Regions from separate parts of the Homo sapiens genome. Here region 1 is linked to region 2. Evidence: fine-mapped expression QTL. A gene starts in region 2. The other region holds a variant in brackets. All regions are shown on one strand. Distances are between the middles of the regions.

What was found. PIP is the estimated chance that this variant, and not a neighbour inherited with it, causes the effect.
Region 1: its variant is the best candidate, but not a certain one, in a credible set for the expression of LTA4H in subcutaneous fat (GTEx, PIP 0.57).

Annotation. Positions count from the first base shown.
Region 1 is chr12:96,013,715-96,016,625 of GRCh38, reverse strand. It overlaps LTA4H (leukotriene A4 hydrolase), which reads left to right. Exons shown (of 19, transcript NM_000895.3): 11 at 932-1,043; 12 at 1,627-1,771; 13 at 2,773-2,876. Among named protein-coding and RNA genes, the nearest start is that of HAL, 19 kb to the right of the region's middle. The variant T/C (reference allele first, on the strand shown) is at 1,203.
Region 2 is chr12:96,034,314-96,037,224 of GRCh38, reverse strand. It overlaps LTA4H (leukotriene A4 hydrolase), which reads left to right and starts at 1,638. Exons shown (of 19, transcript NM_000895.3): 1 at 1,638-1,864. The coding sequence starts at 1,706. TRD-GTC2-8 (tRNA-Asp (anticodon GTC) 2-8) reads right to left here and starts at 1,204; the gene lies at 1,133-1,204. RefSeq lists enhancers at 880-929, 950-999, 1,440-1,859, 2,450-2,539 and a silencer at 1,910-2,009.

The DNA of each region.
Region 1 (2,911 bases), 21 kb after region 2:
CCCAGCTATTTTTTTTTTTTAATTGGAGACAAGGTCTCACTCTGTGGCCCAGGCTGTAGTGCAGTGGTGCAATCTCTGCTAACTGCAACTCCAGGGTTGCAATCCTCCCTCCTCAGCCTCCAAAGTGGCTGAGACTAAAGGCGCATGCCACTATGCCTGGCTAATTTTTGTATTTTTTATAGAGATGGGATTTCACCATGTCGCCCAGACTGGTCTCAAACTCCTGAGCTCAAGTGATCCGCCCACCTCGGCCTCCCAAAGTGCTGAGATTATAGGCATAAGCCGCCACGCCCAGCCAACAAGGATTTTTTTTTTTTTTTTTTTTTTGAGATGGAGTCTCACTCTGTCGCCCAGGCTGGTGTGCAGTAGTGTGATCTCTCTGCCTCTCAGTTCAAGCAATTCTTGTGCCTTAGCCTCCCGAGTATCTGGGACTACAGGTGCACGCCACCATGCTCAGCTCATTTTTGTATTTTTAGTAGAGACGGGGTTTCACCATGTTGGCCAGGCTGGTCTTGAACTCCTGACCTCAGATAATTCTCCCGCCTCGGCCTCCCAAAGTGCTAGGATTACAGGCGTGGGCCACCATGCCCGGCCAACAAGGATAGTTCTTAAAAATTCTGTAACACTTATTACAGCGTTAGGAGTGTTAGGTTCAGTCTAGGTGTTAAGTTTAATTCCTGATATACTCCCACTTTTAACATAGGGACATGCAAGAGCAGAAGCAGGGCTTAACTTTCCCTGCTGCCATCTGCTGGGCTGGGCTTCCCATTGCTCTGGATTGACTGCCTGGGAGCCAGAGTCGGCTTAGACTGTAGTGGTCATGCCTTACAACTGCTTTCCTCTGTAGAAAAGCCAAAAAGAAAATATCTTGATTGAAATGTCTTTTCTTCTCAGCTGTGTCCGTGTTTTTATTAAAATATTTTTTTTTCAGGTTAAATGAGGGACATACTGTGTACTTGGAACGCCACATTTGCGGACGATTGTTTGGTGAAAAGTTCAGACATTTTAATGCTCTGGGAGGATGGGGAGAACTACAGAATTCGGTAAAGGAGTCAAAGTTTTAAAAACCTTCATCCAAAGTTGTATAGGTGTTAAAAACTGAGTTTTTATAAAAGCGTCTTTACTGTGTAGCAACCAAAAAGTCATTTTTACAAGTGTGGAAAGTGAAGTCAATGCTGGTATAACACTGTGTTGATCCACAC[T/C]GTTCACTGTTCTATGTAAGGTAGTTTTGATGACCTGGTCTAAATAGGGAGCTGTGGGACCTCACTGGGTCTTTGCTATTAATATAGCTGTTTACTATGTTTGCATCTTATTTGGTATGTCATTTTTAAGTGTTGTCTCCTGAAAGCCAAATTTGCTGACCAGGCATTAAATCATTTTTCTAGTCTTTTTATAAGAATAAAGCCTGTATTATTGAGCAAGAAACAACAGAGAATATTACTTAAGTAAGCATTCTATTAATAGACTTCCAGAAGTTTATGCCAACATATCCTAGTGTTCCAGTCTCCAAGTTTTAGATTCCCCTAAAGTTACACCACTGAGTGAAGTAATACCTCCTTATTAGCTTATTTGCGTGGTGATAGCAGTCTTTCTATATGTTTCTCCATGTTATTTCATGTCTTGCAGGTAAAGACATTTGGGGAGACACATCCTTTCACCAAACTTGTGGTTGATCTGACAGATATAGACCCTGATGTAGCTTATTCTTCAGTTCCCTATGAGAAGGGCTTTGCTTTACTTTTTTACCTTGAACAACTGCTTGGAGGACCAGGTAAGTAGTTGGTATTTTATGATTTTTTTTTTCTTTTTGAGGGTAATGTGAGAATTAGGAAGAATTGTAAACTATTGTTTTGTTCCATTTAATACTTCCAATTCATTCTGGATGTAGCTGCTGAAGAAATCTGTATTGTTTTCTGAGTTACCTCTCAACTTAAAACCATTAATAACCCCTAAGGTTTAAATTATGCTGCTTCATTTTTTAAAAAATCTCATCAGTTTTTGAAATTAGGATAATAGTGTGTATTCCCTGAAAACATTTCTATGGTACAGAAGTTTATAAGAGTAACAAGTGAGAGTCCATCAACCCCTTTCCACTCCCCAGGGGTAACCACTGTTAGCAGTTTGGTGTAAATGGCTCCAGATCATTTTCTAGGTGTAAATTAACAAGCAGACAAATAAATACATGTAATTATTTTAATTACAAAAAATGGGTCATGCTATATATTGGCTCTGCATTTGTGTTTTGTTTTGCTCGATATTTCACATACACCCTTCTGTGTCAGTACATATAAATCTGTTTCATACTTTTTAATGCCATCATACTAGTTCATGATAAAGCTATGCTGAGTTATGTACCCATCCCCCACTGATGGACATTGAGGTGTTCTCCTTGGTTGATTGACTTGGAAGGCTGTCTGTCACCTGGATCCATTCTGCCTGTCCAGTCTTATTTTTCTCCTTTCTAGTCATGTGAAGGTTATTGCTTTTAGAACTTGGGTTATGCATTCCTTTTCTGTGTCTTCATGTGTTATCCCCTTACCTATAATTAGAATTTCTCTTCTCCCTTCCACTGAATTACATATATTCTTCAAGGCCCAACTTAAGTCCCACCTCCTTTTTTGAACATTCTTTCACTCTGAAAGTCCTCGTAGATTTCCCTATTCTCTGAATGTTCTCTGTTCTCTGTGGTTAATAGTACAATGCCAAACACGCACACAAAATGTCAAATAATTACCTTTCTATGAATTGATTTCTTTTCTTTTTTACTCTTAGAGATTTTCCTAGGATTCTTAAAAGCTTATGTTGAGAAGTTTTCCTATAAGAGCATAACTACTGATGACTGGAAGGATTTCCTGTATTCCTATTTTAAAGATAAGGTTGGATTTAAAAACCTTTTCTATTTTTCATGCTC
Region 2 (2,911 bases):
AAATATCCAAGTGACTCATGGACATCTCCACTTCCACTCCCATAGGTTCTCAAATTTCATATGTCCAAAATTGAATTTAGCATCTTCCCCTTAAATCTGTCTGATTTAGTTTGAATATATGTCCCTACCAAATCTCATGTTGAATTATAATCTCCAGTGTTGGAGGTAGGGCCTGGTGGGAGGTGTTTGGGTCACGGGGGCAGAGCCCTCATGGCCTGGTGCTGTCCTCGCCACAGTGTCTTGTGGGATCTGATTGTTTAAGTGTGTGGCACCGGCCCCGCAATCTCTTGCTCTTGCTCGGGCCATGTAGAGGCCTGCCCCTTCTTCACCTTCTGCCATGATTGTAAGCTTCCTGAGGCCTACCTGGAAGCATACTGGAGCTATGCTTCCTGTACAGCCTGCGTAACTGTAAACCAATTAAACCCCTTTTCTTCCCAGTCTCAGGTATTTATAGCAATGCAAGTACAGCCTAACATACTGTCCTCTTCATATAGACTACTACCTCTGGTTAATGACTAGCCAGCCACTGAAGCCGAAAGCCTGGGCCACCTTCGTCTCCTCTCAATCTGTGAATCCACTTATATAAGTATTCCTTCTATTCATTCCTTCCTCTCTATCCTAACTTACTACTTACCTATGTCAGGCCCCCAGCATCTTCTGATTGAGCCATTTTAATAGTTTCCTAAATCTCCTGCTAATGGTTTTGATACCGCATTTTATAACATGAGTCTGACCATGCTTTATCAGTCGCCTGCTGAAAACTCTTCAGTGGGTCCCCCATTAATGCACCCAGGATTAAAAGGCCACCTATTTAAGGTCCTTCGAAACCTAGCCTCTTCCAATTTTTCCAGTTTTAATTTTGAGGCCCCACCCTAAAGGCAAGGCATCCTTCAATCCTCCTTCACCTGCCACAAAGGCCCCAGAGCTGAGCTAGATGTCCCAGCTCTGTACTCCCATTGCGACCAGTGCATAACTTTTATAGAAATTCATTAGTTTCTAAGATGGGAATGTTGGCTTTCTCCGTTTGAGAGATGCAGGTTCTGGGGATATACATAATAAACACTGAAACTGACAAAACAACTGTTTAAACCTTGAATTACTTACAGCTAAAAACAAAAAACAATTACTGTGCCTCCCCGTCGGGGAATCGAACCCCGGTCTCCCGCGTGACAGGCGGGGATACTCACCACTATACTAACGAGGAACCGCACGAAAGAAAGCCTTCTGATAGGCCTTTTCTACGTTTTTGCTCCGCCCCGCCCTCGCTATATGCAAACACCAATGAACCTGATTTTCTTACGTTTGCCACCACAGCTTCCACGAAAGTTGAACAGAGCCAAAATGGTAGTGTTCAGTTTTATCTCCCCCTCCATTCTCATCATTTCCCTTCGGCCACCCTTCTAACTGCCCCTACTCCCCTCCTCTTCTTCAGCTCCAGGAGCACGCTTGGTCCCCCTCAACATCCCTAACACACACGCTCCCAGGTAGCCAAGCGCCCGCTTGCCGCGCGGCACCATGGAACTTGTAGTTCCTTCACCCATCCCCCAACGCTCGTCTGACTTTAAGAAACTTCCTTTCCCGGCGTGCACCGCGAATCCCTCCTCCTCTTCTTTACCTCTCTCCCTCCTCCTCAGGTTCTCTATCGACGAGTCTGGTAGCTGAGCGTTGGGCTGTAGGTCGCTGTGCTGTGTGATCCCCCAGAGCCATGCCCGAGATAGTGGATACCTGTTCGTTGGCCTCTCCGGCTTCCGTCTGCCGGACCAAGCACCTGCACCTGCGCTGCAGCGTCGACTTTACTCGCCGGACGCTGACCGGGACTGCTGCTCTCACGGTCCAGTCTCAGGAGGACAATCTGCGCAGCCTGGTACAGTGGGGCGCCTGCCCAGTGCCCGCCTCTCCCGGGCTCCCTGCCCCTCGACCCTAGTCCTTGCGGGCTCCCGGATCTCCGGCTCACCCCGCCGCGGCCCCTGCCTAGCCCCACGTCCCCGTCTGCTCTTCTGTAGCCTCCATCCAACTCATGTTGTGCACTTCAGCCCCCAGATCTCTCACAGCACCCCTTCTCAACCCCGCTTACGCCTCTGCATCCCTTCCCTCAGCCCCCACTTATACGTATGTCTCCTCCGCCCCTCGCCTGGATCCTCTCTCCGAGGTCCCTGGGCACATCCAGCGCCTCGTCCACTCCTCTCAACTCACCCAGCCCTTAGGTGTCATCTTTGCAGTAGCCCCCATAATTTTAGTTCCTGGCTCTAATTACTCCATGGCCTCCCCATTGCTTCGGCCTGCGGCCCAGAACCCCCTTCTTCAGGCCCCAGACTTTTCCCAGCCCCCTGGGCACCTTCCTCAGTCAACAATCTCACCCAAGTCTCAGATCCCATGTCCTGTCGATCCCTGATCCCACGGTTGCCTCCCGGGAACACTTATTTCAATCCACAGGTCTGCAGGGCACCACCCATCCGTCTCCCTCCTAGTTCCCTGGATCTCCCTGCTAGTCGTTCTCAAGCCTCTTAGGATTTCCAGCCCCGGCCGGGCAGGCCTCTTCTTTCCGCCCTACTTTGAAACTAACAGTCCCTGCTTGCTAACTCTAGGCGCAGCTCTCTCTCTTCAGGGTCCTTTCTACTTTTTAATCTTATCAACTTTCTTCTAATAATTTAAGAACGGATGGGACGTTCAAATTTTCTAAGGATGATTCAATACGCTTTTTTAATAGTTGGTTCCAAGGAGCCAAGTAGTTATTTCACTTAGAAAACACATACTTCTACAAACTCTATAACCATTGGAATGAAGAAAGGTTGTAGATTCATGGAATATTATTCAATGATTTTATCTGTATCATAACCTATATTTAATGTTCTTGCTCAAATTGCCCAATAGTATTTGGTTTATACCTTTCATCTGAAGGTACCTTTCACCT